4 linked regions of the Homo sapiens genome follow. The protein of the gene in region 2 binds, or shares a complex with, the protein of the main gene of each other region. Each region holds a gene or a part of one and is shown on either strand. Other genes may lie near its edges. The genes, in order: CBLL1, RBM15, METTL14 and WTAP.

Region 1 (3,568 bases), on a different chromosome or scaffold from region 2:
GAATTCAACAATTTGTCAAGATAATCATATTAAATTCATAGTATTCCAATACTTCCCTTAGTTATTTCATACTTATTTAAAATTTTGCAAACTTAGTCATTAAACAATGATAAACCTATCTAAATTTCAGAACCCCACCTCTATGCAAATGCTTACTTACAAAAACAATATTTAATTATACTTACCATTCTCCCATAGATTTTAATAGGCAATCCACACTTGTCACAGAAATGAACTGGTGTATCATCCTTTTCACCTAAGATGTTTATCTGTTGAAATGATATAATTAAAATTACCTTCTTACACAATTCTAAAGATTGTATCTACACAATGAATTGGTCAATATTTTATAAAAGTTGTTAAAACAATTAGAAATAGAAGCCTCTTGGTATAATCTCCATTTATTCCCCACCATTAGTTGTGATACCATTAGTTTTTCTTCTTAGTGTTAACAGTTATTGATTTTACTGAAAATTACTTCAAATTATTCTTGAAAATAGAGTATTAACAAATGATTTGTATGTGCTGAAAATCATAGTTATAAGTTCATAATATTCTTAATGTACTGTGCATTACTCCAATAAAACATTTTAAGTATTTAATACTTAAAATATTTTATTGTTATAATACAATTTTTCATTTTTAATTATACCTGAAAGTCCCAAAAAAGGTGTCCAGGAAATCTTCGCTGATTTGCAAACAGCTCACCCCCTTTACAGTCATACCGTTCTTCTTCATTATAATCAAATCCTTCTGAGAAAAAAAAAGTATTGCCCATTAACTTTCCAAATCTCAAATTTCATTTTGGAAGCACATATACATGGCAAAATAGACCTTTTCACTAAAAAGCTCATCTGATGCCTTTCAAAGCTTTTCTAAGAATAAGACAATCAAGATTACTTTAAAACATCAGTTAGAAGTGATCTTGGTGATCTAGTCCAACTCTTTTACTTCATTATTGAGAATATTACTGTATGGAGACTCATAACTCAACATATAGAAGATAAGTGGCAAAGCCAGGAACAGACCTCAGATCTCTTGACTCCCATTCAAATGCTCTTATCAATTCATGAAACTATTTCTAATGTAAAACTTTACTGATGATCATGCTTGTTGCACAAATTTTTAAGATATTGATCACCATTTATTCTAGTCTAGCTACAAAAATGGTATGCTAAGAGACTGATTGTATTGCCAATAGCATAATGAAAACATAAAGCATTCTATCGATTTTATTAGCAAACAAGTTATCCTCTTCTTTAGCCCTAAAATGAGTGATTTAGACACTTTAACATATTCATATTTCATCCTGTCAATTAAAACCACTCCCTGATTAATTACCCAAACAACAGGAGCCATATCGTATTCTCATGTATCCTTTCCTACAATGCATTTATCAATATCAATAAACTTAAGATATATGAAGATGAAAGGGGCTCAATTTCTCTGGCCTAATTAAAAAGTTGATGGCAATCTTCTCAACTCCTACAAAAGAACAGAAAACCAATCAACAGTCTGATGGGAATTCTAGGTAGAATCCAATTACCTAAAGTAAAGCTGAGCAGACAAATATATCCCTCCAAGGAGCCAGGCTTCTCACGACTCTTTTGGCCCTAGAACTGGTAAACAGAGTAGCCAAGCACACAAGTTTTAACTTTACCCACATGACTAAATTACAGCACCTATACACAGACACAGACACACACACACACACACAGAGAGACACATTCACATTAACACACAAACAATGATGCAAGAAGTTTTTGAAGCTGATAGACACTTCAGTGTACTGCTATTTAATTACTGCCAATACGAATGTATAATCCAAAGTCAGGATGCTCTTATAAGTTACACCTGAGTGTTCCTAGGCTCCTATATCACCCATTTACACCTTAGAAAAGCTGGTGTGATCTAAAATTCAAAATAAGGAAACTCAATTAATTTTTCTTTTTTTTTTTTTTTTTTGAGACAGAGTCTCACTCTGTCGCCCAGGTTGGAGTGCAGTGGCGCAATCTCCGCTCACTGCAAGCTCCACCTCCCAGGTTCATGCCATTCTCCTGCCTCGGCCTCCCGAGTAGCTGGGACTACAGGCACCCGCCACCACACCCAGCTAATTTTTTGTATTTTTAGTAGAGACGAGGTTTCACTGTGTTAGCCAGGATGGTCTCAATCTCCTGACCTCATGACCCGCCCGTCTCAGCCTCCCAAAGTGCTGGGAAAACAGGCGTGAGCCACCACACCTGGCAGAAACTCAATTTTTCAAACCAGAAAATTATTGAGATAACAGCCAAGGAAATTAGGAGCACATTATCATTTTTCAGAGTAGTTCCACCTGTACTCCCATCATTAAACTATATATATTTTGATTGATGCCTAGGAAAACAACAATCAAAAACAAACTTATTTTACTCCAAAATCCGAGAGGGAAAGGAGAGAAAAGGATTTTGGCTTTTCTGCATTGTTTGAACTATTAAAGAATTATTTGTACACTAACGTGTTGTTTTAAAAAACTATTTTTTTAAACAAAGCCAAAGCAGGAGTGACCCTAAATTAGAGGTAGTGCAACAGCAGCCCTAGGTTATTACTAACACGATTTCTAACATTTTGACTTGAAATATACTTGTTTAGATGGCAGAGGAACCCTACGATAAAAGAAACCATAACATATGTTGTAACTAAAGCAGTTTGATTCTACAAAATAAATACAGACAAATTGCTGGAATAGAACAGAAAGTCCAGAAATACAAAAAAATACTTTTAATACAGGGGTCCCCAACTCCCAGGCCTTGGACCAGTACCCTTGGCCTGTTAGGAATGCGGCCACACAGCAGGAGGTGAGGGAAGGGCTAGGGAGCATTACCACTTGACCTCTGCCTCCGCCTCCCGTCAGATCAGCAGCCTCATTAGATTCTCATAGGAACGCAAACCCTATTGTGAACCGTGCAAGAGAGGGATCTAGGTTGGTGCTCCTTACAAGAATCTAACTAATGCAACAGTTGCATCCCGAAACCACTCCCCGCACCCTGCCATCACTCTCCACCTGTGGAAAAACTGTCTTCCACGAAACCAGTCCTGGTGCCAAAAAGATTAGGGACTGCTGCTTTAACATATATATGATAACAGTAAAATCCCTATTCAGCAAGGAAAAGAGTTGGGACAATGTTTCGAGGGAAAAAAAAAAAAGCCAGACCCCACCTTTTTTCCCCTTAATAACCATAAATGTTCTAAAGCAGTATCAGTGAACTTTTTCTGTGAAATGCTAAATAGTAAATATTTACGCTTTGTGGACCATATGGTCTCAATCACAATTACTCAACTCTACCATTATAGTGTGAAAGCCCCCATAGATAATACTTAAATGAATGAGCATAGCTGTGTTCCAATAAAATTGTTTATAAAAACAGGGCTACATTTGGCCCACAGACATAGTTTGCTAACCTGTAATCAAGGGTAAGATGGAAAAACTCTTTTATACTGGTGAAATAGGGGAAGGCCTTTCAAATAATGTCACAAAACCCAGAAGTCATAAAAGCAAAGACCGGATATCTGACTATATAGAATCTTCAAG
Region 2 (2,469 bases):
CAAATGAAAGCAAAAGTCTAAAACCGGTTCTACTTCTCATTAGCCAGGATTTAATAATCCCAACGTTGAATGTTCTTTGTAACAACCAATTTTTTTCTATCTTTCTTCTTTAATTATTTTAATGTAGTTGATTTTTCTGGAACTCAGTTAAAATGAATGGAAAGAAAACTTCAGGATATCATTTAATGACTATTAAGTATTATTGGTAAAAACGTGAAGATAAGACTTTTAGATCACAGCTTCAAATTTTATGGAAAATTAAGCAAGCAATACCTAGCCAATAGTTCTGCTTAACTTTTTGGTTAAGTATTTTGTTGGGATTCCTATAAATAATTTTTCACACAAAGTTTTAAATTTCTGGTGTACTTTGACTCTCAACTGAGAGTGGATAGAGTTTTTCTTTTGAGGATTACATCTTAAAATGTCCATCGCCTGGCTGGTTATAAGCATTTGTCACCTTTTGAAGGTAAAATATACTCTGGCCCTTCTTGACTCAGTTACAGGTCATTTTAGGTCCAGTAATAAGAGTCAGGTGTTTGGTTATTGCTTTCAGAGTCAGACATTGTTTAGGTTTATTTAAAAACTATTAGCAGGTTTTCACTGACAATGCTTTTTTAAAAATAAAAAATGTAAATCCACTTTTTTAAGGCAGATTGTTCATTATGCATATACAGCTTGAACTATAGTTTGGGTCCATATAGGAACCAATCACCAAAAACTCTGGTAACAGAATTAGGAAATCCTCTTGAGAAGAGGGCCTTAATGACCTTTTATGTGAAAAAAATTTTGGAGAGAATTTCTGGACATTTTTTTTTCTGTCTCTCTCACAGGGTTTGGTTTTCAGATAGGAGTTAGGTATGAGAACAAGAAGAGAGAAAACTTGGCGCTGACCCTGTTATAGTGGTTATAGTGGTGTCCCTAAAGGGAGGAAATGATTTCAGGTAACCACAGTGAAATGTTAAGCTGAATGAAGAGTTTTATATGTATGGTTTAAACAGAGTTGAAAAGTGAGATTCCTGAAGTGTTCTTTGGCTGTTTAACAATTATTTGTATGAGTGTTTTATTAAAATAACGGCTGCTGTCTTTGGTAACATAGATGAGGGTGGATTTTTAAATGGCTTTGTATCGACCCCTTTCTACAATAATGGAGTAGTCTATGTTGCTCCATATAAATTACAGAATGAAAATAGATGGGGCAAAAGTTTGACTAAACTTTACCTTTTTATAGTTTCACTTTTTAAGTTATATTTAGAATATATTGATAGATTATAAATTGATTGTGAAACTTTTTTCTGAATTTTTTCAACATGTTTTACTCAGTTACATGAGTTAAAGGATATTTTCAGTCCTGTTATCTTCAATTGCAGTCTTTAAAAAAACCCACCCTATTGTTCTACTTGTTATATGTCTATTCATACAGTAAATTCATTTCAAGGTTTATGCCAGTGGGTATTATTGGTGCTTTTTGAAGTTGAGGTGAACCATCCAGGAAGGTCTTGTTAATGTTATGTTCATCTATAATGGCATAGGGGAAATATATATATTTTTAATATTGTAAACATTTGTACTGAATAACCTTTTTTTCCCCCCCTCCGCAAGCAAAACTGGTTGAACAGCGGATGAAGATATGGAATTCAAAGCTCTAATGGACCTTTTTGAAGAGAAGTTGTGGCTTATGTGGAGTTTACATGGGCCTCTGATGGAAGAAAGCTAATCTGTTTAGTATTTGTGCATTTTACTAAAATGGCAGCTTAAAGTTGTGTATCTGCTATTGTGATGCCAATGCCGGTGTTTTAAGTGGAAAAAAAATGACCTCTTTGATTTGTGCTGTGTACACAAGATTTCTGGAAAAGTAAAGAAAAACCCTTTTTATGGCTCACACAGCTTAAGAGTAGCTGTCTCTCAAACGTGCGCTCACAGTTGAGCTGCTTTTGTTTTATTCTAAATAAATTGTTTCTTTTGAGGAAAATGTTTTTCTGCCTGGAAGTGAATTGACGGCAAACCTTTGACCCCTTTGTTTGCAGCCGAGGGGGTGCTTGCTGCTGCTCAGATCTTGTATGTCTTGAGCAAGAAGCAGGGAGACCATCAATTTCATTTTGACTATCACGGTGTGTCAATTCTGAAGGATCACTAGTGTTACTGTTGACCCCCTTTGTTTGCAGTGAAGGGGATCATTTGCTTCTCGGTTCTCAACGTGATGAGGAAATGGTGCTGTTTGCTGGCACGCAAGAAGCCGGGGCAGGCACCCTAAGCCTCACCACAGTGCCTGAGTCGGGGGCTTTTGCTGGTTTGAAGAGCTGGAGTTGCTGAAATTTAAGTTTTGATTTATTTTGTTCACCCATCACGTTTGGCCTTAGTTTCATTTTTAATTTGAAGAAAAGTTTGAAATTGCTTTATCTTGCACTTAACATTTGCACCAAATTGCCAAAAGAAGGAGAAATGCTCCGTTTGCTTTTTAAATGTTAATGA
Region 3 (3,338 bases), on a different chromosome or scaffold from region 2:
AAAAAAAAAAATTGTATAGAAATAAATTTTTAGTTGCTTTATGCACTAATTCCTTACTGGGGATAGAAGCTAATTATTGTGAAATAACCTAGTTTAGAAGTTAGAAGATCAGCATGTCTGAGTTTTTACAGAATTATAATTCATGGTATTCCAAACCAACTGTTGTTATTTATTTCCAGTGAGAACCATTTTCCCACTGACCTTCCTCCTTTCAGAGGATGGGGATTAGGAGGCCCAAAGTACTGATTGAGTAGGAATACTTTTTTACTCTTCTTCACTGTGGAGAAAGAAGAGGGCAGGTAGTTGATGATGTCAGGAGAACAGATTTTATGGTGTGGAATACCATACCTAAACACAAATGAATCAGATTAGACCACAGAATTGTGATGATGGCAGTCAGAATGTAATACGGTCATCATGAAACAGCACAGTGTGAGAGGTCAAGGTGTCAACCTGGGAAGTGAGAATCAAGCAGGAGTGTGGCATGGCAACCAACTCACAGATCCAGAGTTGAGAGGGATCACTACTGCAGCAGTTCTGCTCTGTTACTCTGGTAAGTAGTAGAGCCACTTTATGAGCCCTTATTTCCTATCTCCCTTATTCTGAGGCCAGGTCAGTGATATGCTATAGTTTCATTTAAGTTAATGGAGTATAAAGATGGGATACTTGGGAGCTATATTGTGCATCAGGGTGTCACAGCTGCTACTAGGAGTTACTCCTTTTCATGTCTTTTAAAATACTTTCTACCCATCTTAATTGCTAAATTATCTTTCAGTTAGTTACAGCGCTTAATTTAAAACCTGTACTGTTTTCATCCTGAATTTAGAACATAAGATTTAGCCTTTGAAGTATAGTTTCAGACTTTACTAATTTGTTTAATATAATCCTTATTAACATGACAAAATGAAAGCCCTGTTGGGACTTAGTCTAAACAGTAGTCTTTGATCTGAAAGTGTCTCATATTTTGTGATCTATTAGAAACATAAACCTTTGCTTATGCAGAAGGTCTTTCTTAGAACAATCCTGTAATCTTAGGGTTCATGTGTGACTAGCATTATCCTCTCTTTGATGTTGGGTAATAGAGGCTGAACTTTTCTTGTGTATATATAGTTAGTTTTGAGGCCATAAATCTAGGACTTCTCAAAAGATTAGAACATTTATCCAGTAAACTGACTCCATTGAAGACTTCATTTCTGGAAATACCACATTGCTTCTGCTCTCAATAACTCTATCATTTACTCGTATAAATATTGCTAGCTGTAATGCACAGAGAAAAACTACCTCATTCAATCTAGATAATTGGGACATCCTTTTCCAGTAAACCCTTTTTCCACTACTGGATAAAATATTAAAATGATCAGTTTGAGTGTATGTTAGAGTTCATGTTTCTGTAACTAAAGGTGCTAATAAACTGAAATCAGATAAGGTAGGTTTTTCCAAAAATACTTCTAAATAATTGACAACCTAGAAGTCAACAATGTAAAATGCATATGGGACTCTATATTAATAGAGAAGCAGGCCAAGAACTTTTTAATGGGATAATTGTCTTCTTTAGGCACATTGTTTGCATATTAACGACATGGAAATATTTTCACTCATTTACTTTCATCCATCTATCTGTGCTTTTTCTCACTTTGATGAGTTCTCTCAACTCCTTTCTAAGAAAAGCAGAGCAGAGCAGCATAGAGTGCGTTAGTAAATGGCCACTGACTCTTGGTCTCAGGCCATAGCAACTATAGAGAGAAGAGTGGGGCTGGAGACCTCATACCCTGGGTAAAGTGGACATCACTTGTCAGCTCCAGCTAATTGTCACCACAGAGAGAAGAGGGTAAGTCTGAGATGTTCATGTGCATTTCCCTACATTTTAGAGGTTGACAAAATAGTTTGTGACTTTTGCTTACATTTGCATTCATAGAACTAAAAAAAATTTAACTTGGCTAACAAAATACCACATGCATATTTTCTTTTTTATTTTTATTTTTTGAGACAGAGTCTCTGTTACCCAGGCTGGGGGGCAGTGATAAGATCTTGGCTCACTGCAACCTCCGCCTCCAGGGTTGAAGCGATTCTTCTGCCTCAGCCTCCTGAGTAGCTGGAATTACAGGTGCCCACCACCACACCCAGCTAATTTTAGTATTCTTAGTAGAGACAGGATTTCACCATGTTGGCCAGGCTGGTCTCAAACTCCCGACCTCAACTGATCCACCCACCCTGGCCTCCCAAAGTGTCAGGATTACAGGCGTGAGCCTCTGCAACTGGCCAACATGCATATTTAAATTATGCATGCATTGTAGCTGTATACTGTGTGACCACATTTACTTAAAAAAGAGGAAAAAAGGTTACTTGCTTGAGACAGGAAACTATCACCTTTGAAAGCATATTAAGTAGTTGGCTTACTTTGGAACACACAGTAGACTGAAAATGTGAACTAATACTTTAAAATTGCCGTATAATGATGTCATTGCAAGCCATTCATCTATCCAATGGGGGAAAATGTGGAGGTCTAGGCTTGTGTTGTCACAAAATACACCTTTTAGATAATCCTTACCTGTACAGATTTTTATAACTGTTGTTATCATAAGAGAATGGCTACATCATTATCCTGCCTTTTCTGGGTGTTTATTTTGTTGTTTTTGAAAGTGGACAAAACCTCAAAGCACAATTTTGTTCTGATATATCCAGTTTAGTAGTTTATGCTGGTTAAATGATCAAAGTAATTGCTTAAATGTCTTGTGGAATTAGCTGTCACTTTATAGTTTATGTATTGTGGTGGGTACCTTAATAATAAAAAGATTTTTAATGTAATAATATTGCTCATAATTCATGAAAGCTACATGGGTAGTTGGGTTATTGTTTTGTCTAAGAAGCTAGGTTTATAGCATGGTAAATAAAAACTCAAGATTATAGCTTTCTTTTCTACTATTGAGCTCAATTAAAGGATAATGCATGATTAAAAATATATTTATAAAAATAATTCCAAAGCAAAATTTAGAAAAATGTAAACACAAATGTAAGCCCATCAGCCAACTACCTCCTTGAATCTTAACTCCATATCCTTCCTCAGATGGTGCTGACAAGATAGTGGATCAGGATGGCACCAGCACCTCTTTGGGGACCTTTCCCAGTTCTGATTGCTTTCCTTTACCCTGATTCAAACAGAAAGCTTGCCTTTTCATCTGATACCTGCATTTGTCTACTCACCTAGTCCTGAGCTTTTACACCACTGCTTGGGCTCTTATGACTTAGTTTTTGTTGTTAGCTTTATAAGGGCAGTGGTATGCTTTCTCAGCTTCTAATGTATGGCATATAATAAGTGCTCAATAAATAGTCCCTTTCCC
Region 4 (2,725 bases), on a different chromosome or scaffold from region 2:
AAATTTCAAAGAATTTGGATATTTTCCTTATTAATAATGCACCTTACAAAGAAGAGAAACAGAGATACAGCTACACTTGCACTAAAAAGGATGGAGGCTGACAAGTTTTATCTCAGCAAATTTAAAGATTAAATCTCTTATTCACTAATAAAACCTTCACAGATACAATCAACTTTATTACTTTCAGATCGCTGAAAACTGCCCATGTTTCTAAGATTTACACTTAACGAGAAATGCTTATTCTCCCTTTCAAACAATGAATACAAATTTGTCCATCTTGTTAAGTAATACAACACCCTTTTATCTTTTACCAAATCCTACCCCCAACTAAAAACAAAAATGTAAGAAATTTTGAACAATAAAGAATTAGGAGGGTGGGGATAAACAAACTAAAATTATATGGCTTTGTTTGCGGACTCAACTAAAAATGCTTCACTCACAATAATATACAATCATAGGGCAGAGGTTAACAATGTACAGAATCTAACCTATAATATTCATGACTGGCAGTTTTAAAAAGCCAATGCAAAGTTGAGACAACGTTCCAAAAAGAAACAAACCCCTTACCATCCTGACTGCTTTTAAGCTCCTCACTGTATTTCTTCTGTAAAGCCAACTCTGCTTCAAGTTGTGCAATACGTCCCTGGGACAGCTGCCTTCCAAGCTCTTGATTCTCCTGGATAAGCATTCGACACTTCGCCATTAACTTTTTCCCTGTTTGGCTGCAAAGGAAAGAGCCATCCATCACAAAATGAAGACAAAACTCTCTGTCTTTGCTTACAATTATTACAGTGATAGATGTAACACATACAAACATAACTATATCACAGCAGATGCTTCCCCATAATTACCATCTTCTTTTCTGGGACACATCCATCTTCTGCATTTCAGTATTTTGCCAACACAGCAGTAAAAATAAACCCTAAACAAAAAGTGCCCAAACAGCTACACCTTGTTTCTATTACATCAATAATCAATTCTGAAATCCATCTATTTTCATCTCAAATTATCATTTGAAATGGAAACAGAGCCAGTTAATTAACACACACCTTGGCTATACCAGTATTATTACACTAAGGAATCTAGCGCTTTATCAGAAAAGTTCTTGAAAAGGTACATGCAACATCAATCACAAATATTTATGAAAATCAGTACCTACAAATAAAAATGAATGAGAGTATTTATTCTTGCTAGAAAAACATTTAATAAGGATTTTCCTTAACAGGAAGTCCTCCAGCATGGGCAACATAGACTCCAACTCTACAAAAAATTTTTTAAAAAGTAGCCAGGCACACATGCTTGTAGTGCCAGCCTCTGGAAAGGCTGAGGTGAGAGGACTGCTTAAGCCCAAGTGGTTGACGCTGTGACCATGCCACTGCATTCCAGCTTCGGAAACAGGGACCCTGTCTCAAAAAAGAGGAGGAGAGAGGGAAGTTTTCTGGTACATCCATCTTCCATAACTCTCAAGAATATTATCTATTATATTAATTGAGGCACATTCAGCAGTTAAGGTTTTTTTTTTAAAGACTTAAGACTTTATTGGAAAAGATCATCCTTTTGACACAAAAATAAGACCAGTGGTCACGTATCACAATTCAAACACGCAAATATCTGCCAATCTAGGAGTGTCACACTTTCCACAGATTATAGTTTCCAAATGCTAGTGCAACATACTACTGAACCTATGTGCACATACATAGCAATTGCAAATATGTAATGAAAAGCTCAAATGTTTCCCAATAAAATTTTACTGCTTTTCTTTAGCCTCAGCAATAAAAGGAGAAATTATTTGCTTGTTCTTGTAATTATTTATGAAAAAAGAAAAAAAAAGAAATGATCACTTTTAAAGGGATCTAAGTAAATAATTGTGATATTTACCTTTGAGACTTGGATAAAGACAGTGTGACATTCTTGTCCTTGGGGTAAGTCCAGGATGACCTTATGGGTTAAAACATTTTTTAAATTCTAGTCTTTCCTTCTTCTAGTGAGGCTTTCACTTGCCTGATACACTACTTCAGTATGCCTTATAAGTTTAAAAATGAGAGCATTTTGTAAATATTTTATCAATCTTTGAAGTGTTGCATGGTTCTTTCACCTACAGCATTTTTTTTTTTTTTTTGAGATGGGGGTCTCACTGTGTTGCCAGGCTGGAGTGCAGTGGCGTGATCTCAGCTCACTGGAGCCTTGACGTCCCCAGGCTCAGGTGATCCTCCCACCTCAGCCTCCGGAGTACCTGGGGACTATAGGTGTGCACGAGCACCCCCAGCTAATTTTGGATTTTTAGTAGAGATGGGGTTTCGCCTTGTTGCCCAGGCTGGTCTCAAACTCCTAAGCTCAAGTGATCTGCCTACCTCAGCCTTCCAAAGTGTTGGGATTACAGGCATGAGCCACCGTGCCTGGCTGCATGTTTTCTAACCTAATGTAATTCAAGGAAAAGTTTGTAATTAAGCTTTCTTCCAGAAAATACCTGAAGAGTTCAACCTGGGTTACTACTGCTCAGAGGAGCCCGAGGGTGAAAGCCACCAGTGAGCATGTGGTAAAGGCTTTATTCTTTGATATGATAACTTTATTAGCTGGTGTTCTTGTTCACTGCTACTGTAGCTCCAGATTTCCACCATTTCCCATCAGCACTCTCAGGCGTTAGCCTCCACTGAACATCCACTTAGAAATTAAACAATGGGAAAATGAGAGATATGCAAGATTGTCAAAAACAATGGAATTCCTT

Evidence for each region.
Region 1: RBM15 (region 2) and CBLL1 share a complex: the UniProt entries of both Homo sapiens proteins name them as parts of the WMM complex.
Region 3: RBM15 (region 2) and METTL14 share a complex: the UniProt entries of both Homo sapiens proteins name them as parts of the WMM complex.
Region 4: RBM15 (region 2) and WTAP share a complex: the UniProt entries of both Homo sapiens proteins name them as parts of the WMM complex.

The regions. Positions count from the first base shown.
Region 1 is NC_000007.14:107,750,596-107,754,163, reverse strand, and holds part of CBLL1 (E3 ubiquitin-protein ligase Hakai), read right to left. Parts: intron 1,620-3,568; exon of another isoform or gene 1,547-1,619; intron 754-1,546; coding exon 653-753; intron 270-652; coding exon 186-269; intron 1-185. UniProt on the Homo sapiens protein: E3 ubiquitin-protein ligase that mediates ubiquitination of several tyrosine-phosphorylated Src substrates, including CDH1, CTTN and DOK1. Targets CDH1 for endocytosis and degradation.
Region 2 is NC_000001.11:110,344,709-110,347,177, forward strand, and holds the end of RBM15 (RNA-binding protein 15), read left to right. Parts: intron 1-830; coding exon 831-901; 3' UTR 902-941; intron 942-1,599; coding exon of another isoform or gene 1,600-1,646; 3' UTR 1,647-1,969; downstream 1,970-2,469. UniProt on the Homo sapiens protein: RNA-binding protein that acts as a key regulator of N6-methyladenosine (m6A) methylation of RNAs, thereby regulating different processes, such as hematopoietic cell homeostasis, alternative splicing of mRNAs and X chromosome inactivation mediated by Xist RNA.
Region 3 is NC_000004.12:118,712,626-118,715,963, forward strand, and holds the end of METTL14 (N(6)-adenosine-methyltransferase non-catalytic subunit METTL14), read left to right. Parts: 3' UTR 1-2,805; downstream 2,806-3,338. UniProt on the Homo sapiens protein: The METTL3-METTL14 heterodimer forms a N6-methyltransferase complex that methylates adenosine residues at the N(6) position of some mRNAs and regulates the circadian clock, differentiation of embryonic stem cells and cortical neurogenesis.
Region 4 is NC_000006.12:159,751,457-159,754,181, reverse strand, and holds part of WTAP (pre-mRNA-splicing regulator WTAP), read right to left. Parts: intron 723-2,725; coding exon 568-722; intron 1-567. UniProt on the Homo sapiens protein: Associated component of the WMM complex, a complex that mediates N6-methyladenosine (m6A) methylation of RNAs, a modification that plays a role in the efficiency of mRNA splicing and RNA processing.